7 linked regions of the Homo sapiens genome follow. The protein of the gene in region 1 purifies or fractionates together with the protein of each later gene. This does not show direct contact. Each region holds a gene or a part of one and is shown in the gene's direction. Other genes may lie near its edges.

Region 1 (3,500 bases):
AATCTCAACACTTGGGGAGGCTGAGGCGGGTGGATCACCTGAGGTCAGGAGTTCGAGACCAGCCTAGCCAACATGGTGAAACCCTGTCTCTACTAAAAATACAAAAAATTAGCCGGCCATTGTGGCAGGTGCCTGTAATCCCAGCTACCTGGGAAGCTGAGGCAGGAGAATGGCTTAAACCTGGGAGTCGGAGGTTGCAGTGAGCCGAGATCGTGCCATTGCACTCCAGCCTGGGCAACGAGTGAAACTCCATGAAAAAAAAAAATGAACTGGAATACAGACAGTTATTTTTCTGGAGGTGATACTGGATAATTAAAACCAAGGGTGTGAGATTGCAAAGGAGTTTTAAGAATATTTTAAAAGAAGAGAGCCAGGAACATAATCCTGATGAATATCTGTTTTTACTGAGTGTCAGGAAGATGAGCCAGATAAAGAGCTTTTAGAAAGGAGAAAAAATACTCATGGAAGCCAAATGAAAATACCTTTCAGTGAAGGGATGTTAATAAAAGCTAGTGTGCAGAAATATATGACTTTCTTTTTATTGAAAAGGCTTGCTTGGGTCATTTTTTGTTTGATTGATTGTTTGTTTGTTTTTGAGACAGAGTCTCACTCTGTTGCCCAGGCTGGAGTGCTCTACAATTTTTTGTAGAGACAGGTTTCACCATGTTGGCCAGGTTTGTCTCAAAACTCCTGAGCTCAAGTGATCCACCTGCCTCGGCCTCCCAAAGTGTGCTGGGATTATAGGCGTGAGCCACTGCACGTGGCCTGCTTGGGCTTTGATGTTTATTTTTTTCTGTGTATTTATTTAACACATATTTAGTGAACATTTGTCAGATTAACTTCATGTTCTTAACCATGTAAAGGAGTACTGTAAAAGGTATCAGGTAATCTAGTTGAACCAGATTTTAAGGTACATATAGTGGTAAGTAGAACTAGAGTCATGTTGGGTCCATTCTATGAAAGGACTTGCATGCTAGCCGGAGGAATTTATTCATACTAGGCATGGAGAGCTATTGTTTTATTTTAGAAGTGGTTAGATTCAAACCGTATTTCAGAAAGCTGACAGTTCTGAGAAAATTATCAGAAATGGAAGTTCTAATAAAAAAATTTTTTTTTGTACAGATAGGGTGTCACTATGCTCCCCTGGCTGATCTTGAACTTCTGGCCTCAAGCGATTCTCTCACCTCAGCCTCCTGAAGTGCTGGGATTACAGGCATAAGCCACTGCACCTGGCCAGAAATATGTATTTTTAATATAATGTTATATATGGCAGATTTGACAAAGTATTTGGTTTCTAGATTTTTCTTTGTCTTTTTTTTCAATTATAAACATAATAAAAGCTCTGTAGAAAGTTTCAGAAAAGTGGAGAAGTTTAAAGAAGAAAGCACAAGGCAGTAGGGCAGCTTTTAAACTTTTAGAATTAAATGTGTAATTCGAACTTGAGTATGATGTGACTCAGATTCTAACTCTGAAGGTGTGAATAAGGTAGGATTCTTTATCTTTATTTTCATTAATGGAATTTAGTGCATGTTTTATTGTTGATACCACGTAAAGCACGCTAGCTTATTTTACACATCAAATTTGCATATATTCATGGTACAAATGATTTCATTAATATTAACGTTTATGTTAACATGACTTGTCAATTTCTCTGAAGCATCATATTCTCGAAAAGATAAAGACCAAAGGAAGCAACAGGCAATGTGGCGAGTGCCCTCTGATTTAAAGATGCTAAAAAGACTCAAAACTCAAATGGCCGAAGTTCGATGTATGAAAACTGATGTAAAGAATACACTTTCAGAAATAAAAAGCAGCAGTGCTGCTTCTGGAGACATGCAGACAAGCCTTTTTTCTGCTGACCAGGCAGCTCTGGCTGCATGTGGAACTGAAAACTCTGGCAGATTGCAGGATTTGGGAATGGAACTCCTGGCAAAGTCATCAGTTGCCAATTGTTACATACGAAACTGTAAGTAATATGTTCCCAGTGTCATTTCTCCACACGTTATTTGGGAAACTAGATGACTGGTTTTTTCAAAAGAATAATATTTAAATACCACTCTTCCAGTGAGTTAAGACTACAAATTACATGTGACTTTTTTCTTCATCCAAAATTGATTCCGTATATTTTTACTATATAATAGAACTAACATTTCTTGATTGCTTACTCTGTATTTGGCAATAAACAAGACAAAATTCTTAACATCATAGATCTTGTATTCTAGTAGTGGGAATCAGACATTAAAAAGTGTAGACAAGTAAGTAAAGATCATTTCAGTGGGTAAAAGGTGCTGTGAAGGAAACAACCGAGGAGTGGGATGGGAGGAGCAGATGAGACATGTTCTATTGGGGTAGTCAGAGAAAGTCTCTGTGAGGAGGCAGCACTTGACCTGAGACCTGAAGTTTAGGAAGGTGGCAGCTATTTATAGATCTAGGGCAAGCAGTGTTCTGGGTAAACAGAACAGAAACTGCAAAGTCACTGACACAGGATTTATTTTGCGTATTTGAAGGATTGAAGGAAGACCAGTATGGCAAAGAAAGCAGAGAGAGGAGACTAGCAGGAGACGAAGTCAGAGAGAGGTAGGCAGAATTTAGATCAGGGAGAGTCTTGCAAAACCTCAAAAAGGAGTTCGAGTTTTATTATGATGTAAGGAGGAAGCCTCTAGAGAATAAAAATAAGGGGTGTTTATAATCTGATTTACACTTTACAAAGATGACTTTGCTTGTTGTGTGGAGAAGGGTCTGAAAAGGGTTGAGGACAGGAATTGTGAGACCAGTAACAGCCTATTACATTATCTTGTGTGAAATATGATGGCATTTTCTGGAGTTACAATAATGGATAGAGGGGCTTGTTCACAGTCTAGCAGCCTTTCTTGACTGAGGTTCCCATCTTTCTTAGTTCTCTTAAGGATGTGCTATTCTATTCTAGATGCATAGGAGGGAAGTTAATCCAGTCTTAGATCAGCAGGGCTGAGTTCTTTCTCAGAACCATAGTTGAAAAAGCCTAAATAGAATTTTAGGAAAGTTCTATTTAGAAAGAAACTAAGAATTATGATTAAGTTTTGGCCTAAGCAACTTAATAGGCAGTGGTATCATTTATTGAGAAGCAAATCAGATAAGAAGCAGGTTATGGGGCTTGGGAGGAGGTAAGGGCAGAAAGTTGGGTATTCTTTTTTAAACATGTTTAATTTGAGACACCTGCTAGATATCCTAGTAAAATGTCATAGACACGTGAATGGTACACAACTTTGAAACTCAGAGAGAGGTCAATGCTGGATATAAACAGTTGGGAGTCAATAGTATTTTATATTATTTAAATCCAGAAGACTGAATAGGGTCAAGTTTGGAGGGAGTTTCAATGGAGAAGCAAAATTTTTGACTCTGTGGCACTTAAACATTTAAAGATCTGATAAATAGGAGAGGCCAGCAAAGGAAATTGAAAGAGCAATCATTAAGGTAGGAGAAAAACTAGAAGGGATAATATCTCAAAAATCAAAAATAAT
Region 2 (3,500 bases), on another chromosome or scaffold:
TTCTACCCATTAATTAATTCCTCATCCTCCCCTGGCTCTCCATTGTCTTTTATTTCACACTGTGTCCAGGTGTACACATTATTTAGTTCCTAAGTGCGAACACATGGTATTTGTTGTAATAACTTTATTGAGGTATAATTCACATACCACAAAGTACAGTTCAATTCAGTGGTTTTTCAGTATATTCACAGTTGTGTATGCATCACTCCTGTCAACTTCCAGAACATTTTCATTACTTCAGAAAGGAACCCATACTCATTAGCAGTCACTCCCCATTCCCCTTTTTTCTCAACCTCTGGAAACCACTAATCTACCTACTGTCTGTTGATTTTACCCAATTTGAACATTGCATATAAATAGAATCATGCAATAGGTGCCCTTTTCTGTCTGGCTTCTTTCACTTAGCACAGTGTTTGTCAAGGTTCATCCTTGTAGCATGTATCAGTACCTCATTTTTTTAATGGCCAAGAAATATTCCATTGTGTGGATATACTACATCTTAAAAATCTATTCATCACTAAATGGACTTTAGGATTGTTTTCACTTTTGGTCTATTTTGAATAATGTTACTATGAACATTTGTGTACAGGTGTTGGTATGGACACATTTTCATTTCTCTTGAGTATATATACCTAAGAGTGGAATTCCTAGGTCAGGTGTTAACTTTATGTTTAACTTTTTGAGGAACTGCCAAACTGTTTGCCAAAGCAGCTGTACCCTTTTACAGTTCTACAGTAGCATATCAGGGTTCCAAGTTCTCCATGGCCCCACAAACATTTGTTATTGTCCATCTTTTTTATTTTAGCCCTCCTAGTGGGTGACTCATTATGGTTTTGAAGTGAAGAGGTATCTCATTATGGTTTTGATTTGCTTTTCCCTAATCACTATTGATGTTGAGCATTTTTTCCACGTCCTTATTAACCATTTATACATCTTTGGAGAACTGTCTATTTAAATCCTTTAAAACTGTTTTTTAATTGAAGTATTTGCCTTTTTTTATAATTGAGTTGTAAGGGTTCTTTATTCTGACAAGTTCCTTGTAGGATTTTTGGATGTTTTCTCTCATTCTGTTGGTTATCTTCATCTTATATGCATTTTTATTTCTTAAATGATTTGACATTTGGGTATCATTAATATTTTTCCATTGTTTAGTATTTAAATTCTATTGCTTATGATTCATTTTTCCCTTTTTATTAAAAAAATTTTAGAGGCACGGTCTCCCTATGTTGCCCACACTGGTCTCAAACGCCTGAACTCAAGTGATCTTCCTGCCCTCTCCCTCTAAAGTGCTGAGACTACAGGCATAGCTACTACCCAGCCTAAAGATACCATTCTTGACTCAAAGCATGGTTTTACATAAATTGACCATATGACCCAACAATTCCACTCCTAGTTTTCTACCCAAGAGAATTAAAAACATGCCCACACAAAACCTTGTACACGAGTGTTTATAGCAGTGTTAATAGTCAAAAAGTGGAAACAACCCAAATGTCTATCAACTGATGAATAGATAAGGAAAATGTGGGATATCCAAACAATGGAACATTATTCAACAGTAAAAAGAATGAAGTAACCAGCCGCTTTGTCATGCACCTGCAGCCCTGGCTATCTGGGAGGCCAAGGCAGGAGGACTGCCCAATTTTAGGAGTTCAAGGCTGTAGTGTGCTATGATCATTCCTGTTAATAGCCACTAGGCTGCAGCCTGGGCAACATAACGAGACCCCATCTCTCATGCACCCCATCCTGCATCATGGCTGAACATTCCAGATACTTCACAGCTCCCACCTGCTTAGCCAGGGAAGGGCCTTGCTGAGGAGTCATTGGCACTTGGCTCTGCTCCTTCAGCTTCTTCACTGTCTCATGGTCACTCCACAGGTCCCTTTTGGTGCCTACCAGCATAACAGATACATTGAGGCAATGATGGGAGACCTCTGGGTACCACTTATGCCTCACATTGGCCTAAGAGGATGAGTTGCCAATGGAAAAACAAATGACAGAGATATTGGTCTTGGGGATAGGAGAACAGTCGCAGTTGGTCATATTCCTCCTCTTGGCCAGTGGTGTCCCACAGGTTCAGGCTGATGATTTGGCCATCCACAGATGTCTGGGTGCTGTAGTTGTCAAAGACATTGGGCATATACTCCTTAGGAAAGGCATTTGTTGTATAACTGATGGGGAGGCAGGCTTTGTCTACAGCCACATCTCCTGCAATCACACATTTGATTGTCTACATTCTTCCCTTAGTCTGATCATCCTCCAGTGCTGTTCAACCATGACTGGCAGAGCCTCCTGGGCATCTCTTGTTGGGCTTTATAATTCTTGCTTTAGAAAAGCTAACATGCAAAACAAAGTAGTTAATGAGGCATTAACAATTATGGATATAATAAAGTTAATGTAAATAGCACATTCCTCAAGATGAAAAAATTAAAAACTGGTTTAAGATCTTGTGCTATCAAGATTTTGTTTAACTGTCCTTCAGCCCAGAATAGCAAGTATAACATAGCGAAAGGTAATTTTTCTGGTCAGTATAATCCCTAATTAAGCTACCCTCTTTATTATAGCAGTAGACATTTTCTTATTTATTCTAATCTTAGTTTAAAATTTGGAATTTTTAAGTGAAATTTTAATGGCAAGTGTGACTAATACTGAATATTGATCACATAATTTTGAAATGTGAGTAGAGCAAAGACCTCTTAATAAATCTTTTTTTTTATTAGAGAAAGAGATGCTGTAGGGATGGAAATTTCCCAGTCTAGCAGCTATGACCAGCTACTGTGTATTACAAAAGGAATTTTAGGTATCATGAATATACACACTGGGAAGATGATCTGCCTGTAGTCAAGGCTCTAAGCAACCTGTATAAGAAGAAAATAACCCAGCACCTTAGGAAACACTTCTTTTAAGGTTCTAGGGTAGGAGAGGCTGCTATAGTTGAATGTTTCCTTACCCCTGTGCAGTAGTGAGGAATGGCATATATTTGTGATCTTTTAAAAAGTTTGATGTCTAAAATTAGTAGTGATTACAGCTCAAATTTCTAGTTTTTTAATTAGATGATATACCTTTAAAATGTTAAATATATGCCAATCTATAAGCAGAATTTATTATTTTATGTTTGGCACAATAAAAATTGTAAGTCTTTTTCTCATGTATTTTCTCATCATAGGCCTCAGGAGTGCAAGTAGCTGATGAAGTATGTCGCATTTTTTATGACATGAAAGTTCGTAAATGCTCCACACCAGAAGAAATCAAGAAAAGAAAGAAGGCTGTCATTTTTTGTCTCAGTGCAGACAAAAAGTGCATCATTGTAGAAGAAGGCAAAGAGATCTTGGTTGGAGATGTTGGTGTAACCATAACTGATCCTTTCAAGCATTTTGTGGGAATGCTTCCTGAAAAAGATTGTCGCTATGCTTTGTATGATGCAAGCTTTGAAACAAAAGAATCCAGAAAAGAAGAGTTGATGTTTTTTTTGTGGTAAGCATGTTAGAAATATTGAGCCTCTG
Region 3 (3,500 bases), on another chromosome or scaffold:
GGCAGAGAATCAGATGGTGTGCCAGTCTCAAGGTTTCTGATTGACTTGGGCAATTTGGTGGAGACAATAATGAATTCCAGGTGACTCTAGTGGAATATTTGTTCAACTGAAAGTGGAAACATAAAATGTTGGTGGAGTGAACAGTGATTCTAGTGATTTCTTTCTTCCTTTCTTTTTTTTGAGACAGAGTCTCACTCTGTCGCTCAGGCTGGAGTGCAATGGCATGATCTCGGCTCATTGCAACCTCCGCCTCCCGGGTTCAAGTGATTCTCCTGCCTCAGCCTCCTGAGTAGCTGGGATTACAGGTGCCCGCCACCAAGTCTGGCTAATTTTTTGTATTTTTGGTAGAGACGGGGTTTCGCCATGTTGGCCAGGCTGGTCTCGAACTCCTGACCTCAGGTGATCCACCCACCTCTGCCTCCCAAAGTGCTGGGATTACAGGTGTGATCCACCGTGCCCAGCCTATTCTAGTGATTTCTTTAAACGTCTTTCTGTTTAAAAGTGGCTGATTAGTTTTAGTGTAAGCCATAAGATTTTCCAAGGTCTAGGGTGCAGTCTAATAGATGGAGCTGATACGAGTTGAGGCTTTGTTTTGGAGGATCTTGAGAGAGTAAAGTAACTGTTGCTAAAATTCAAGATCCAGTGAAAGTACTCATGTGGTTTATTCTTTGTTCTTTGTTCTTTCCCTTGGTAAGTTTTTGTTTTTGTTTTTCTTTTTGGCTGCTCCTCTGGGAAATAACTGAGAATGTTTTTGGGAGGGGGAGGGGTGGATTTCAGAAAAGGATGGTAATTGGGGGACAGCTGCCCTCCAGTTTAAATACTTAAAGATTGTTGGAATACTCACTTATTTTTATAAGTGGTCATGGAGATGCTGGGATGGGAGCTTGTTGTCTTCCTCAGACACCTTTTTCTAGGTAGATTTTTTTCCTCTGTTCAGTTTGCCAACAACTTCTTATTATCTGTGCAAGTGAGATGGACTGGCTGGGTGACTCTTTATGGCCAGTGGCACTTTCTCATCTCCTTTGTTCTGGAGACCAGATAGCTTTAAAGGGGAAGACAGAGGAACTGGCCATGTGTTGAGCTGCAGAATCTTAGGCTCAGTATTTAAATATGGACATTCTAGGAGTAGTTCTAAGGTGGGTGATTCCTGCCTCCCATCCCCCCTCTTTTTTTTTTTAGATGGAGACTTGCTCTGTAGCCCAGCCTGGAATGCAGTTGCACGATCTCTGCTCACTGCAACCTCCACCTCCCAGGCTCAAGTGATTCTCCTGCCTTAGCCTCCTGAGTGGCTGGGATTACAGGCATCCACCACCACACTCGGCGATTTTTTTTTATTATTTTATTTTTTTATTTTTAGTAGAGATGGGGTTTCACCATGTTGGCCAGGCTGGTTTCAAACTCCTGACCTCAAGTGATCTGCCTGCCTCAGCCTCCCAAAGTGCTGAGATTACAGGCATGAGCCACTGCGCCTGTCCTGGGGTGATGTTTCTTAAGCTACTTTCACTCAGAGCCTGCCAAATTTGCTTATTGAGCTGAGGTCTAGTGAGGAAGTCCTCAGAATGGGGAAGTAGAGTTATAGTTAAATATTGATGAAATCATTTCTTCTACTCCCCAGCCTGAAGAAGCTTAATCTTTTGACTTTCTGCTGCTCTGCTGAACTTTGAACCCCTACTGAGGAGGAGACACCTGTGGGAAGGGAGGGGGGTTGCTTGGGCTACCTGTTATCCTCTTAAGGCATTCTGGAATGTGGGTTTTGCAGACTCCTCCCTCCTCTGGAGCGGGAAACTGCACTCTCTGATGGTATCTCATGCTGTTAGTGGGATTGTCACTTAATTATTTTCCTGGTTACTTTGTGTGAACATCCAAGCCACCCTTGTTGGGAAGCTAGATGAGTCTAAAACTGAGACACTGGTGTTCTAGGATCCATCTTTCTTTTCTGCTCTCGGCCTGGAAATTGGTCTTTTATAATGTAGCACCTTGTCAAATTTACTTTCAGTTCTGTATTTCCTTTTTACTTCTGTCTAAATGGAAACAGATGGCAACATAATGTTTAAATGCAGTCTTTTTCCTTATCTCTTTTTTTTTGTGGTAGTGGTGATAAAAATACATGTAAAATTTACCATTTTAACCATTTATAAATGTACAGTTCACCTTATCTGTTTTTAATAACTCTCTCCTAATTGTCCCTGATATTTTTCTCTTTTTAATTTTTTTCTAGTCTAAAAAACTTAAGAGGCTGGGTGCGGTGGCTCACACCTGTAATCCCAGCCCTTTGGGAGGCCTAGGCGGGTGGATCTGAGGTCCACCTGTGGATCTGATGAAACCCCATCTCTACTAAAAATACAAAAAATTAGCTGGGCATGGTGGCGCATGCCTGTAATCCCAGCTACTTGGGAGGCTGAGGCACAAGAATTGCTTCAACCCTGGAGGCGGAGGTGGCAGTGAACCAGGATTGGATCATGCCACTGTACTCCAGCCTGGGCGAGTATCGGCACTGGGGGAGTGAGGGGTCAACTGCGGGAGTGTAAGGTCAGCACACTACCTCTGCCTCAAAAAGAAAAAAAAAAGTAATAACAAAAACCTTAAGAGTACTACCGAGGGAGTGGGCTTTGATTCTGGCCTTAATCCTAAATTCCTAGTCTCTGGAGAGGTTAGAATGCTTGACTGTTGTGTGGTTCTCTTCTATTCGTGGGCCTGGTGGACTAAGCAACCTTTCTTTGGTTGCTTTGCTTTCCTTTCTCTTTCCCCAGTACTAGAACACACACTCACAGGGGAGAGGCAGATAGCCCTTTACCCCTGCTTAGGCTCCGCCTTTGTTTACTGTGGGGCAGATAGCTCTACTCCCTTCCAACTTGCCTCCCCTTTGGTGAAGTTTAAATTCCCCAAGGACACGGTATCTCCCTGGGTAATGCATTTGTGAGCACAGTGAACTCAAATAGTCCTTTACTCACAGGGCTCAAGCCTAACTTTCTGATACTCTTTCATTTGAATTTTATCTGTGGCTTTTATCTAATAAGAGAAACCCCAGTGTGGCAGAAAGCCAGATTTAGGCTAATCCCCTTCTGTCCTTGGCCCTGTTCTGCCTGAGAGTACCATCACACTGTCAGTTTCTTGCCTGGAGGGGTTGACATATTTGGGAAATCTCTTTGGAGTGGAGGATAGCCGAAGGTGTTGTCAGCCATCTGGTAATGTGACTGAGTTGCTGGGGCATTCTACTCTTTCCCCAATCCCTCACCCAGGATCTTTGCTTCCTGGGCAGTGGAGAATCCTATTATTACTTGAAGGGAAGAACCACAGAGTACTGTATATCCTCCACACTGGGCAGAGATAGGTCAGCTGAAACACCAAAACCGCATCTGGATGGGCATGCTAAAACCTAAGATGATTAGGAAAGTGCAGAGCTTAACGTTTCCCAGGGCCACAGGTAGCCTGGTCTGCAAAAAGTAGGCCTGTTCAATCTCTTGGTACCCATTGGTATTATTTGACCTGAAAGGGACAGG
Region 4 (4,025 bases), on another chromosome or scaffold:
GCTGGGACTGCAGAAGCGCACCACCATGCCCAGCTAATTTTTGTATTTTGTTTTTGTTTTTTTTTAGATGGAGTCTCGCTCTGTCGCCCAGGTTGGAGTGCAGTGGCGCGATCTCGGCTCACTGCAAGCTCCGCCTCCCGGGCTCACGCCATTCTCCTGCCTGCGCCTCCCGAGGAGCTGGGACTACAGGCGCCTGCCACCACGCCCAGCTAATTTTTTGTATTTTTTTAGTAGAGACGGGGTTTCACTGTGTTAGCCAGAGTAGTCTCAATCTCCTGACCTCGTGATCCGCCCGCCTCCGACTCCCAAAGTGCTGGGATTACAGGCATGAGCCACCGCGCCCGGCCAATTTTTGTATTTTTAGTAGACGGGGTTTCGCCATGTTGGCCAGGATGGTCTCGATCTCTTGATCTTGTGATCCGCCCGCCTCAGCCTCCCAAAGTGCTGGGATTACAGGCGTAAACCACCGCGCCCGGCCGCAACTCCCTTCTCTCTCCTCTACGAACTGTGATGAACAAAGCCTTTCATCTCCTGCAGGAACCTCGGCTCCTACCCTCGTTCTCCCTCTGCCCTCCACCCTCCATCTACCCTCATAGCCCTCAGACTGTCTTCACATCCCAAGGATCCCCTCCTCTACCCTGCCTCATATTCTCCTCTGGGAGCCCCTTCTTGGCTCTCCATCTGAGAGGGCCCAAGCCTGTTTCTCAGTACTTTCCTCCCCCAGAATTATCTCCACTGCATCTATTTGGCTTTTGTGTCTGCATTTACACCTATGCCTGCATCCTGGGGGCATGTGCCATCTCCCTCTTTGGGCAGAGAGAGTTGCTGTGTCTTCCTTGCCCTTGCTAACCACTCCCCCCTCTTCCACTATCCCCCTGGCCTCCAGCTGCTAGTGCACAGGGCAAGTCTCTGCATTTATGGTGCCACTGAGGACAACGAGAGAGTGATGGATGACAAGGGGTGCTCCCTTAGAGAAAAACCAGCCCTGGTTCTCCATCTTATTTCTGAAAAAGAGTTTGTTGGATGCTTTTCAATTAAAAGCAGATGATTAATTCAGCCCTGGCCTTGTTCTGTCTTTGAATAACAGATACATTAGTTTACTTGAAAAGAAATATTTTCATTTGTATTTCCATGTCACTTGTGATTTTCCCTGCCTTGCACCCTCAGCCCTGCCAGTTGGCAAGAAGACAGTCAGCTTTGCTGCTAAGAGGAGTATAAAGAGGGCTTGGTCCAAGCAAGAAGGCAGTGGTCTACTCCATCGGCAACATGCTGGTCCTTTATGGTAAGTGGATATGGTCCAGTCGCAACCCTGGTCCTTTATGGTAAGTGGATCATGTGGCCTGAGGTCTATAGGGAGGGGGACTTGGGCAGGAAGGTCAGCAAATTTTCCCTAAGTCCAGGCCAGCACCCTGTCCCAGGGCAGGTGGGACGCTCTGCCTGCAGAGCGTCCTTTACTCTCCTGGAGGCCAAGATAGAAAAGGTCAGGGCCACTGGCTATTCAGGCCCCTCTGGGTGGCAGGTCCCTGGGCCACAAAGCAGAGAGAAGCCCCATCTGGTAGTGGGGTGGGTCCCTGGGCTTCCCCACCACCCCCATTGACAGGAGGACTTCCTCAGCAGGTGCCTGGCTGGGGTGTGCACTGCAGGCCCTGAACCCTGGAGAATCTTGCCAAAGCATTAGGGGGCTGGTGGGGGTCAAAGAGTGGGGGGGGGTCTCTTCAGGCCAAAGGGTGATCTTGAGCAAAGAGGAGACCACAAGGAGCCTCTGGGGCCTAGCCTGGTGGTTTGAGAGAGGTCCTTCATAGCATGCCGGAGTTCTGGGAACACCTGGGGGAAACAGAAGGCACCCAGGCACCCCTGTTTTCAAAAGGGGCTCAGAGAACTCACAGCTGGGCCCCTCATTCGTTAGAGAGGAACTGTGAATTTGCAGACAAGGCTAACATTCCTCAAAGCACAATCGCCACCCCCCACCCCTACCCCTGGCTGACCCCATGCTTAGTCATCACTCACTTTTCTTCTGCCCCACAAAGGACACAGCACCCAGGACCTTCCGGAAACCAATGCCCGCGTAGTCGGAGGGACTGAGGCCGGGAGGAATTCCTGGCCCTCTCAGGTGGGTGTTCCTTCCCAGCCCCAGACTTCCACCCAAATAAGAGCTCAGTGCATGACATAAGGTATCATGTGTATTTGTGCATGTCCCTATCAACAAGCAGCTCTCCAATTGTCTAGGTTCTCGATTTTAAAGATGGATGGGATCAGGCTTAGGTGGTTTTCTAAATGCAAAAGGCTTGGAGGAGGGGATTTATACACCAACCACAGTCCCTCTTCAAGGCACACACCCAAACACAAGATACATTTATATTCTCAGCGACAGCACTTGTGCCACGCAAGAAAGACTGGGTGCCAGACAGTCACCTTGGACTCCACATACCTTGAAACTCACACGCACACCACTCCACACTGTGTGTGTCACAATGCTTGCACGCATGTGCGCGCACACACACACACACACACGTACAGCATGCTGCTTAGTTGGCTATTTAGAGTTTCCACTTTGCTAACAGGGCAGCTGGGCCCTGATTTAAGTGATCTAAATATGTAAACCTGGCAAATTAACTGATGAAGATCCACACTTTGAGAAGATATCACTGCAATCAGAGTTTTAGCTTATAAAAGTCTGAGCCCCAGTTTTCAGGAGTAGAGCTATTACATAACATGAGGTGCTAGAAGAAGAGACATGAACTGATAAAAACAAACATCCTATTGGTATTTTTTTTTTTTTGAGATGGAGTTTTGCTCTCATTGCCCAGGCTAGAGTGCAATGGCATGATCTCGGCTCACTGCAAACTCTGCCTCCTGGGTTCAAGCAGTTCTCCTGCGTCAGCCTCCTGAGTAGCTGGGATTACAGGCGCCTGTCACCATGCCCAGCTAATTTTTGTATTTTTAGTAGAGACGGGGTTTCACCATGTTGGCCAGGCTGGTCTCAAACTCCTGACCTCAGGTGATCCACCCGCCTCAGCCTCCCAAAGTGCTGGGATTACAGGCATGAGCCACAGCGCCTGGCCTCCCATTGGTATTTCTAAGTAGTCCCTGAAGTGGGGAGACAGGAGATGTCTTGAAAACACTAAAGGTACAGCTCTGGAGACCTAAGCCTGTTGGGCTTAGGTGATGGAGCAAATCTTTGCCTATAGTTCCTCTTTTTTGGGGGAGGAGAGGGGGCGATGGAGTCTCGCTCTGTCACCAGGCTGCAGTGCAGTGACGCTATCTCAGCTCACTGTAACCTCCACCTCCTGGGTTCAAGCAATTCTCCTGCCTCAGCCTCCTGAGTAGCTGGGACTACAGGTGCATGCCACCACGCCCGACTAATTTTTGCATTTTTAGTAGAGATGGGGTTTCACCATGTTGGCCAGGATGGTCTTGATCTCCTGACCTGGTGATCCACCCGCCTTGGCCTCCCAATGTGCTAGGATCACAGGCGTGAGCCATGGTGCCTGGCCTATAGTTCCTCTTTAAGGGAGAACAGAGGTAGAAGGAGTTCCAAAAAAGGAGTTACAATGGGTTCTAGGTCCATTGCAACAACCTAGAGAGATAATGCCAAATACACTGTGTGCCTTTACTCCTCCATCCATGTACACAGCAAACATCACCAAGCGATGGAGCATCCCTTCCTGCTGGCCCCAGAAGCATCTACACACCCCTTATCAATGCCACACTCCAGGTGGCCACTACCAAGCAATCAGTAGCAATTGGCAGGTCAGATGAAACCTATTTGCCATCTCTAGCCTAGAAAGAGAATGTTTTGAAGGACAGCAGGACTTTAAGGAGGTGACATGTAGTTTGAGGCAAAGTCTTTTATATTTAATTATTTTTGACGTTGTAGAGGCGAGGTCTCACTATGTTGCCCAGGCTGGTCTCCAGCTCCTAGGCTCAACTGATCCTCCTGCCTCAGCCTTCCAAAGTTCTGGGATTACTGGCATGAGCCACTGCAACCGACCTGGGGCAAAACCATTTGAGAAACACCAACCTAT
Region 5 (2,577 bases), on another chromosome or scaffold:
CCTGGGATTTTAGAGAGGAGCCAGCAGGGACTGAGTAGAGGGGAGTGGCAGAGAGAGGAAGAGGCCTGTACAGGGAACCATACACCAGAGGCCTCAACCTTTCTTGCAGGACGTGGACAATGCCTACATGATAAAGGTGGAGTTGCAGTCCAAGGTGGACCTGCTGAACCAGGAAATTGAGTTTCTGAAAGTTCTCTATGATGCGGTAAGGAGGCTGCTCCGGGACAGTCCCTTACTTCCCACCCTTCTCACCAAATGAAAGTCCTTTCTGCTTGGTGAAAAAGTGGCAGAAGTGGGGTTTATGGACCAGCTGACTTCAATCTGCCATCATTCCAGGCCACTGGGGGGGCTTTCATAGCATAGGTCTTGTGGGTGAGGAATTTTCTCCTCCGATGTTATGGGAATAAGGTTCAGGAAACACCAGGACAGCTTCCCCTCCCTCCATTCCCCAGATGTCCATTTCCCCTGGGGAAGAGACAAGCCCTGTGCCCATTCCTGTGCCTACTGTACTTCAGAGGTCAAAATGCATTTGTCTCCTATCCCCCTCCCCAACCCAAGGGTGCACAGATGATTTCTGAAACAGGAAGTCCATTTAAGGTATTTGCCATGGACAAGCTTCTGTCTGGGGGCACTTACCATAACTGGCTTAAGTGCTGAATGTTAACTAGGAGGCTCAGAAATACAGGTGCCTCTCACTACAATTCTCAGGACAACCTTGGGAGAGGCCCAGGAGTAGACGGTTACATGATTTTCATCCCACCTAGTGTATGCTTAGTCTGAGGGTCTGCGTTTCCCTTATGCTGGGAGACAGAGGCCTCCTGTCTGCCTGTAGCTATGGCAGGATGTCATGACCAGACCTTCCTGTGTGTTGTAGGAGATATCCCAGATACATCAGAGTGTCACTGACACCAACGTCATCCTCTCCATGGACAACAGCCGCAACCTGGACTTGGATAGCATCATCGCCGAGGTCAAGGCCCAGTATGAGGAGATCGCCCAGAGGAGCAAGGAAGAAGCGGAGGCCCTGTACCACAGCAAGGCAAGTAGAGGGAATGTAGGAAGAGCCACAGCTCCCTGCCATGAGCTGGGTTGCACCCCCAGCTGGAAAGTGTACAGTAAGGTTATTGGTTTTTTGTTTAATGGTAGTTGGGCACCATTCCCAAGAAAGGATGTTGAGAATGGCACCAAGTCCTTTTGGGCATGTGAGACAGTCCCTACCTCTCATGAATGCAGCCATGACATTTAGCTGGGTTGACCCTCCCTGGACCAGTAACCAGCTCTCCTTCACTCCAGTCAGTCTGGAATGTGAGCCAGGCTGGAACTTCCTTGCAAACTGTCCTCTTCTCCCCATATCAGTATGAGGAGCTCCAGGTGACTGTCGGGAGACATGGAGACAGCCTGAAAGAGATCAAGATAGAGATCAGCGAGCTGAACCGCGTGATCCAGAGGCTGCAGGGGGAGATCGCACATGTGAAGAAGCAGGTGAGGCCCAGCCCTGTCCAGCGAGGGGCGGGAGGTTGTCTCTGGGTGTGCGTGAGAGTGTGGTTGTGTGTGAGTGTGCATGTGAGAGATGAGAGACACTGAGATATTGCACTCTAGCATGTATCGATCCCAAATTCCCCAGCTTAACATAATTTATGGCTTATTATAACAATTCTTAGAGTGCTCTAATAGACATTCCAAAGTAAGGATTATCGAAGGGAAAGAATTGTGCTCACTTGTTTATATGAGGAAAAGGGAGTCATAACAAATAGAGCAAACGTTAGTTTGATTGATTTGCTGCAGATTGCCGATGGAGCTTCCCGTTTGTGCTCAGCACAGGCCCTGAGCACCAGCCGACTGGTTTCATAGAGGGGCAGTGAGTATTGAGGGCAGCTGGCCTGGGGCTGGACGTTAGCTTTGGAATAGAAAAGGTAGAGGCAGAGAGTGGATTCCATCAGCAGCAGAAGCTTTGCCAAGCAGACCATTTCAAATGTTTTCATTTCCATCTGTAAAATGGGATCATGATTCAGGCCCTGTGATGTGAGGATCAAAGGGCACTATGGGGAAAGCCAAAGGGTGTCATCAACGGTGACATGGGAAGAAGATGTGCCAGAGACAGCGGCAAGTCTTAGCACAGTTGTTTGCGACTAAACTCCAGAGGGGACCTAACACTCCCAGGGCCAGTGGTTCTGGCTTCCTGCACTTCGAACACCTCTGCTCTCTGTCCGCCTCCGTCAGGCAGAATCCATTCTCTGTCCTTCTGTCATAGTGTAAGAATGTGCAAGATGCCATCGCAGATGCCGAGCAGCGTGGGGAGCATGCCCTCAAGGATGCCAGGAACAAGTTGAATGACCTGGAGGAGGCCCTGCAGCAGGCCAAGGAGGACTTGGCGCGGCTGCTGCGTGACTACCAGGAGCTGATGAACGTGAAGCTGGCCCTAGATGTGGAGATCGCCACCTACCGCAAACTGCTGGAGGGCGAGGAGTGCAGGTGAGGGCACTGGGAAGGGAGAAGGGGACCCTGGCCCTTCCTCTCATCTCTCCCAGAGCCAGGGCTGGAGGCAAAGACAGGGAAAGCAGAGAATGGGGCAGGCCC
Region 6 (3,500 bases), on another chromosome or scaffold:
CCAAATGATTACCATTTAATGGTCTTCAAAATTGTAAAATGCTCTCTGCCTCTGATCTGTTTCTCACTTTCTAAGGCCATTGAATCAATTTAGTAGACCAATTCAGCATTTTAAGGGAAAAACAGAAAAAGATGTGGTTTTGTCCATGTAGAGTCACCCTTTGCCTATTCTGGTCCAGAGCTGGTTTTCCTTCCAGTGGTTCTCATATGTCCTGTAAGGACTCAAGGATAAAGGGTGGCTGCAATGTCACAATTCTCTTGACAAAATTTCACTCAGGTTTAAACCAAAGGAAAAACCACAGCCCCATGCCCCAATTGTAGAGTTTGGCCAAAATTCCTTAGGAAACAGAAATCTCCCTTTGGATCTGGTGAAAACAGATTCATTTCTTTTCTAGGAATCCATGTGGTGTATGATCTTTCCCGAAAACCTGGAGACAGAGTAGTCAAATTAGATGTTCTTTGCACCAAGTGTCGAGTGCCCAGTTATGACCCTCTCAAAATGGACGAGGTATATAAGGTGATCCTCCCAAACTTCCTGGCCAATGGTGGAGATGGGTTCCAGATGATAAAAGATGAATTATTAAGACATGACTCTGGTAAGCATGACTGTCTCTTCCTTTCTCTAAAGAACAACAAAATTGGGCCAAGAAGGGGAGCTACTAGTGGTGCCAGGAGGGCAAAGTGACTCCCTGTATTGCTGACTCCCTCCTGCTTTGCTTGTTGGAAAGCAGCAGCACAGCACAGCAGAGAGGAATATGTACCCTGTCAATCCCCGAGCACACACATGCCTTCATCCAACCCCAGAGACAAAACATTTGTAAATCAAAAATGTTTTAAAATTCTTTTAACTACATCTAAGCAGCTATTTAAATTGTGAAATATAAGTGAGTTTTGCATTAACAGAAATATCACACCTCTGGAATTTTAGGATATGGAAAACCATCACATTAAATCATTTAAATTTTCTTTCTTGAAGAAGTTTCTGTGTGAATCAGTCAGGTAGAAGTGGATGGGGTGAGCGCCGCCCTTTCAGCACAGTGGGTTGGTGGTACAAATCATAGGAATAACCATACTTGATGTCAGTTGGTACTTCTGGCAGCATTGAGGGACATTATATGCCAGCCTCACTTTTAGAAATTCTGTTGAGAGTCACATTATGTGCATACAGACCACTGACATAGGACACACTTCCCCTTCCTCTTCCTAGGGCAGAGACCAGCATGCTTACAAGACACACAAGCAGCTTCTTGGCATCTCTGGGTAGTTCCACCAGGATCTTCCTCAGTCTTATCATGCTGGACCTGTCATTTTAGCTACTTATTCCAAGGAGCGTGGAGGGCAGGACCAGACCAAAGGAGGCAGCCCTTCCTGGGAGGAAAGGTGCTGGCTTCTTCTGTCCCTTCCGTGACAGAAGATGGAAGGGCAGGCGTAAAAGCCCCATGAGACAAAGAGGCTGATAGCCATCAGCTGTCCACCACTCAAGCCTAGACTGAAGGATGTTAGAGAGAGGAGCTCATGCAGAAGGCTAAGGAAGCCCTGGACCTAAGCGTTCTCAACACTGGTTATACATTAGAATCACTTCAGGAGCATTTTAAATTAAATACCAATGGCTCGGCCGCAGCTCTTAAGAGATTCTAAGTTAACTGGATTGGGGCTAAACTCTTTTTCAGTGATTCTAGTGTACACCCAGAGGTGAAAACCACTGAAGAGAGAAGGGTTCTTAAGTACTGGAGTGATATTTTTAAAATAAAATTCTGTTGGGTTCCCAACAGAACATGGGTTCCCAACAAACATGGGTTTGTTGTAGCTATAGGCAATTAGCATTTATCCTCTCCTCTCTTTGGTAAAGGAAATCCCCCAAGTCCCATCATCAATTACATGAAAATAATTATTGGGCAGGCAAACAAAAGGAAGCCAGTTTTATCTCTCAACTAATTGCTCTTGACCCAGTTCCCTAATGCCCTTGTTCTGGAGTGGTTCAAAGGCTATGATGTCAATGACCTCTTTCTAGAGTCATCACAGAGCTGAGGCAACTCTACTTCCCCCAATTACCCAATATTGAACAACAGACACATTTTACATCTGGAGCATGAAAAAGCAATCAAATTCTTTGTACTTATGATCACTAGCGTTCTTGTCTTCTGTGACACTTTACCCCTGCTTATGAAATTGCTTCCCTTTTATAATTACAAAGGACTACCTTACTGTTGATTGATAATTACCTTTTCTGTAGTTAAAATAATGTATATGTTTTTCTAGGTGACCAAGATATCAACGTGGTTTCTACATATATCTCCAAAATGAAAGTAATTTATCCAGCAGTTGAAGGTCGGATCAAGTTTTCCACAGGAAGTCACTGCCATGGAAGCTTTTCTTTAATATTTCTTTCACTTTGGGCAGTGATCTTTGTTTTATACCAATAGCCAAAAATTCTCCTTGCCTTTAATGTGTGAAACTGCATTTTTTCAAGTGAGATTCAAATCTGCCTTTTAGGACCTGGCTTTGTGACAGCAAAAACCATCTTTACAGGCTCCTAGAAGCTGAAGGTTAGAGCATTATAAAATGAAGAGACAGACATGATTACTCAGGGTCAGCAACCTAGTGAGTTAGAAAAAAAATTAACATAGGGCCCTATAAGGAGAAAGCCAACTATGTTAAGTTTACGTGTCCAAATTTTAATGAAATTTTACTAACAATTTTAAACCATATTTTTCTTCTTCATATCCATTTCTAATCCATCAAACAGCTTATGTTTACATAAAATTTTATCATTCACAAGGAAGTTTTAAGCACACTGTCTCATTTGATATCCACAACTTATTTTTGGTAGGAAAGAGAGATGTTTTTCCCACCTGTCAGATGAAAAAACTGAAGCTCAAAAAGGGTTGACTTGACCATACAGCTAATGCTGACAGATCCAAGACCTAGACCTAGGTCTTTTGAACTCAAGTCCAGCATTCTCAACTATATCAAGTTACTGTTCAGAATACTTAATATCTCCTCTCTTCATAATTATCAATAGCCCCAAGCTCATGGATGACAAATCTCTGCTTTATTTCTTGTCTCTATTTTTTCACTTTATAGCTCCTGTTATAATAGCAAGTTTAATGGTATAAACACAGGATACCATCCTCTCTTGCAACACCCATGTGCCTTTGATGAGTCAGGTAGCAAGCTGTAGTAGATAATGAGAAAGGCCAGAGGCTGCAAAAGACAGTCAAAGGACACGAGAGAAAGGAAGGGGAAGAACAGGACTCCAGGACTGTTTTATATTATAGAAAAGCAAGAGCTAAAGAGCATTTACACATGTTAAACAGATACTTGTTAAGCATAGTGCCTGACACACGGCATTAGCTGTTATTTTATGAGATTCCATCAGCTCTGCCTCTGTCCTCTTTCTTCTAACATGAAGGTATCATGAGAAGAGAACCTTCTAACATAAGCTGTAATTCTAAACCTGCACTTGTCCCTCTCCAGCAAGAGGCTAGCACTGAATTCATT
Region 7 (3,500 bases), on another chromosome or scaffold:
AAAAGCAGTGTATATATATGATAAAGTAATGTGTAACAGGAAGCTTTATGAAGAATGTCTTCCAATACACCTTTATAAAGTTCTAAATTCAAAGATTTGTATTCCTCTGGCACGTGAACGATCATTTCAGGCTTTGCTGGGTTATCGTAAAGTCCCTAAGTATGTATACAGAAACAGGACTTAGATCAAAAGGCACGTAACAAGAGCACTGCTTAAAATTGAGTACTCAGGATAGGGTATTAAGATTTAGTGCGGGCTCAGTATGCTTGTAGATCAAAATGGTGTGAGACTTAATGGGAAGGGAACCTGCAAAGATGTGCCCTCTGTGAACCAGGAGGTGTTGGTGGGGTTTCGTCACAGAGAAGAGGGAGCCAGCCTTCCCACTGATGGTATTACAGGTGATCAGGATAGCTTCTGTGCTGAATCGGCCATGCCAATTCCCATTGTAAATGGTTCCCTTCCCAGTTCAAAAGGGGTCACAAATCTTATCAAATGGTAAATTTATTTAATGACTGAATATGATATATAGCAAGCGGCTTCCTGTTTGTGTTATTTACTTTGTCATATTAGTCATGATATGAATAATACCACTGTGTTTCGTGAATTAGGTTCTCAGAGGCACTGTGACTGACTTCCCTGGATTTGATGAGCGGGCTGATGCAGAAACTCTTCGGAAGGCTATGAAAGGCTTGGGTAAATTTAGCTTCCTCTTTCTAAAGCAAATGTGATATTTGTTTTTCCAAACAAGTCATTAATTACAGTAAGAATAATTTTAGAATATTTTGATCTGAAATCTGTAGGAGAAGAGATATGTTAAGATAACAAAATAATACTATAAACCAGAGTGTCCAGTCTTTTGGCTTCTCTGGGCCACATTGGAAGAATTATCTTGGGCCACACATAAAATACACTAACAATAATGATAGCTGATGAGCTAAAAAAAAAAAAAAAGCAAAAAAATTTCATAATGTTTTCAGAAAGTTTATGAGTTTGTGTTAGGCTGCATTCAGAGCTGTCCTGGGCCACATGTGGCTTGCAGGCCATGGGTTGGACAAGCTTGCTATAAACCATCCCTAATATTCAGTCTCTAGAACTGAACAGGCAGTTAAATTCAGCCTCTGTGCTTTTGAGCTTGTCACCCTCACCTGTGTGGTAGAGGCCCGAGTCGATAAGGCAGCCATCCCTGCAGGTGGGCAGCTGTGCAGCTCTGTTCCCAATCAGATATCCCATTCTCATTCTGCTAGACTCTTCTCTTTCCCCAGCCTCTTTTCTAGTCATTTAAAAACCTCTCATCTCAAGGATTTCCATGTGTCACTGATCTCCTGTGCTCAGGCTCCTTTTGTACTACTGTTCATGTGCTTTCTGGCCCTGTAAGTCCTTCCATTGTATCCAGCCCACCTTTTCAGACTCATCTCCCATTACTGTTTAATGTGTTCTCAGACCCAACCATCCTGGCTTATCTGCTGTTTATGAAAGCCCTGTATTTCCCCACTGCTGAGCTTTTCTCTCATTCTAAACGCTGTCCTTCCTTTCGTCACTGCCTTTCACAATCCTTCCATCCTTCAATACTTGTGGGTGTCACCTTCTCCATGAATCATTCTCCAAGATTCCCTTCCACCTCCTATCAGCTAGGAGACCCTTCTTTGAGCCCCATTTAACACCTAGATCTCTCCTGAGGCACTTGTCACATTTTGCCTTAGCTCATACTTATTTGTGTGTTTTTAAAAAACTAGGTGCCCTAAGTTTTTTAAAAGGCAGAAGTATTTTTCCATCTACTTCACAATAGGTTGGGAATGGGGGGTAGAATATATTGGAAACGTAACATTTTATATATTGTAAATTTTTAATAAACTGTTTAATAAAACATTTATATATATGTGTGTATTTGCGTCTGTGTGTGTGTGTGTGTATATATATATGTGTGTGTGTATATATATATATATATACATATTTTTTTTTTTTCTAAGAGATGGGGGTCTCACTATGTTGACCAGGCAGGTCTTGAACTCCTGGCCTCAAGCAATCCTCCCATCTTGGCCTCCCAAAGAGCTAGGATTACAGATGTGAGCCACTGCGCCGGCCATAAAATATATTTTATATTCGCATAGGGAGAGGCAAGGAAATAAGGTGACTGGGAAGCGAGTTGCCAAGATCGTTGGGAGAGTATGCATGTAGGAGCCAAAATGTAATTGTTAACCATAAATTGCAGGCACAGATGAGGAGAGCATCCTGACTCTGTTGACATCCCGAAGTAATGCTCAGCGCCAGGAAATCTCTGCAGCTTTTAAGACTCTGTTTGGCAGGGTAAGACCACACTTCATCCCAAGAGAGAATGGGAGAACAGCTATCAGTTATAAGACTAGTTTGGAATATACTGATATTCTTTTGTAAGCATCATTTATTTTGTGATTCCGACTTCCCTACTTCTGTTTCTTTTCCACTCTCCTCTAAATTATCAGCTCTTAGGATACAGTGCTCACCCAGCTTATCCTCACATAATTGTTTTTCCTTGCCTAATGCTGTAGAGGTGCCAAAAGATCCTGTAGTGAGAACTGTCTCTCTTCTTTTCCTCTGTGTTTCCCACTCAGCATTCACATGGATGTCTTACTATCCATTTTCTAGGTGTAAGCCTGTATTAAAATATGTTTTGTTTTAACACAGTCACAGTCTTGGTTCCTTTTGTCATGATTTTAACTAATGGGTTTTTAATTAGTTGATTTAAATGCTTTTATTTGATTAATAATTCAAAAAAATTTATTTGAATTATTTAAATGAATTATTTGAATTATTTAAATTTAAATGAATTAGTGCATGCATGGAAAACTTAAATGTAGTCTTGTTATTCTGAAAACGTATGTCACTTAACTAAGGAAACAAGTGCAAAGCAAAAAAGAAAGTATTCTAAACACCATTTTTAGTTGTGTGGTATGCTGAAACTTATAGGTAGGAAATACTGTGTTTTTTTTTTCACAATTACATAATTTTTTCATAATTACATACACAATTTCCCCATAGGAACAGATATCTCCCAGTGGTCAGGAGTCATAACAATGACTATAATCTATTATGTGTTTGAATGTTATTACATATTGAGAGAAAAGAAAAAATTATTACGTTTGGGTATGAGAGACTAAATGTTGTCCTTTGTAAATTTCATTATATGATTATTTTTTGAAATTACAAAGAAGATATGTTTCTCAGAATAGTATTTTTATAAAATAGTTTTAGACTACTTTTAAAGGTATTCTTTTTTTTCAAGTTAAGAAAAACATCTTTTAGAAACAAATATCTTGACGTATAAGTGGGTTTGCTTTAGTTTAAGATTTTGGTCACAGGTTAAAAGTATGTTATTCAAGGTTATAGGGTTTTGTTTAGCTCATGGGCCTTCTACTTGGAGACAGCAACATAAAGAATTCATTAGAGCAAAGGACTGTCATTCATATTTAAGAAGAATCTTATTACAATTTCTGCTGGTTAACAAATTTGTATTTTCTGTGGGT

Evidence for each region.
Region 2: the proteins of TRIM37 (region 1) and DSTN purify together in Homo sapiens (affinity purification with mass spectrometry, with the first as the bait; one large-scale study listed by BioGRID). This does not show direct contact.
Region 3: the proteins of TRIM37 (region 1) and TPM3 purify together in Homo sapiens (affinity purification with mass spectrometry, with the first as the bait; one large-scale study listed by BioGRID). This does not show direct contact.
Region 4: the proteins of TRIM37 (region 1) and CELA1 purify together in Homo sapiens (affinity purification with mass spectrometry, with the first as the bait; one large-scale study listed by BioGRID). This does not show direct contact.
Region 5: the proteins of TRIM37 (region 1) and KRT2 purify together in Homo sapiens (affinity purification with mass spectrometry; 2 studies listed by BioGRID and IntAct, with this or other methods). This does not show direct contact.
Region 6: the proteins of TRIM37 (region 1) and NT5E purify together in Homo sapiens (affinity purification with mass spectrometry, with the first as the bait; one large-scale study listed by BioGRID). This does not show direct contact.
Region 7: the proteins of TRIM37 (region 1) and ANXA5 purify together in Homo sapiens (affinity purification with mass spectrometry, with the first as the bait; one large-scale study listed by BioGRID). This does not show direct contact.

The regions. Positions count from the first base shown.
Region 1 is NC_000017.11:59,026,881-59,030,380, reverse strand, and holds part of TRIM37 (E3 ubiquitin-protein ligase TRIM37), read left to right. Parts: intron 1-1,657; coding exon 1,658-1,966; intron 1,967-3,500. UniProt on the Homo sapiens protein: E3 ubiquitin-protein ligase required to prevent centriole reduplication. Probably acts by ubiquitinating positive regulators of centriole reduplication.
Region 2 is NC_000020.11:17,597,575-17,601,074, forward strand, and holds part of DSTN (destrin), read left to right. Parts: intron 1-3,163; coding exon 3,164-3,471; intron 3,472-3,500. UniProt on the Homo sapiens protein: Actin-depolymerizing protein. Severs actin filaments (F-actin) and binds to actin monomers (G-actin). Acts in a pH-independent manner.
Region 3 is NC_000001.11:154,178,601-154,182,100, reverse strand, and holds part of TPM3 (tropomyosin alpha-3 chain), read left to right. Parts: intron 1-3,500. UniProt on the Homo sapiens protein: Binds to actin filaments in muscle and non-muscle cells. Plays a central role, in association with the troponin complex, in the calcium dependent regulation of vertebrate striated muscle contraction.
Region 4 is NC_000012.12:51,343,880-51,347,904, reverse strand, and holds the start of CELA1 (chymotrypsin-like elastase family member 1), read left to right. Parts: upstream 1-1,225; 5' UTR 1,226-1,266; coding exon 1,267-1,282; intron 1,283-2,027; coding exon 2,028-2,110; intron 2,111-4,025. UniProt on the Homo sapiens protein: Serine proteases that hydrolyze many proteins in addition to elastin.
Region 5 is NC_000012.12:52,646,635-52,649,211, reverse strand, and holds part of KRT2 (keratin, type II cytoskeletal 2 epidermal), read left to right. Parts: intron 1-109; coding exon 110-205; intron 206-874; coding exon 875-1,039; intron 1,040-1,356; coding exon 1,357-1,482; intron 1,483-2,251; coding exon 2,252-2,472; intron 2,473-2,577.
Region 6 is NC_000006.12:85,491,583-85,495,082, forward strand, and holds part of NT5E (5'-nucleotidase isoform 1 preproprotein), read left to right. Parts: intron 1-394; coding exon 395-595; intron 596-2,258; coding exon 2,259-2,422; 3' UTR 2,423-3,500. UniProt on the Homo sapiens protein: Catalyzes the hydrolysis of nucleotide monophosphates, releasing inorganic phosphate and the corresponding nucleoside, with AMP being the preferred substrate. Shows a preference for ribonucleotide monophosphates over their equivalent deoxyribose forms.
Region 7 is NC_000004.12:121,683,481-121,686,980, reverse strand, and holds part of ANXA5 (annexin A5), read left to right. Parts: intron 1-608; coding exon 609-693; intron 694-2,209; coding exon 2,210-2,304; intron 2,305-3,500. UniProt on the Homo sapiens protein: This protein is an anticoagulant protein that acts as an indirect inhibitor of the thromboplastin-specific complex, which is involved in the blood coagulation cascade.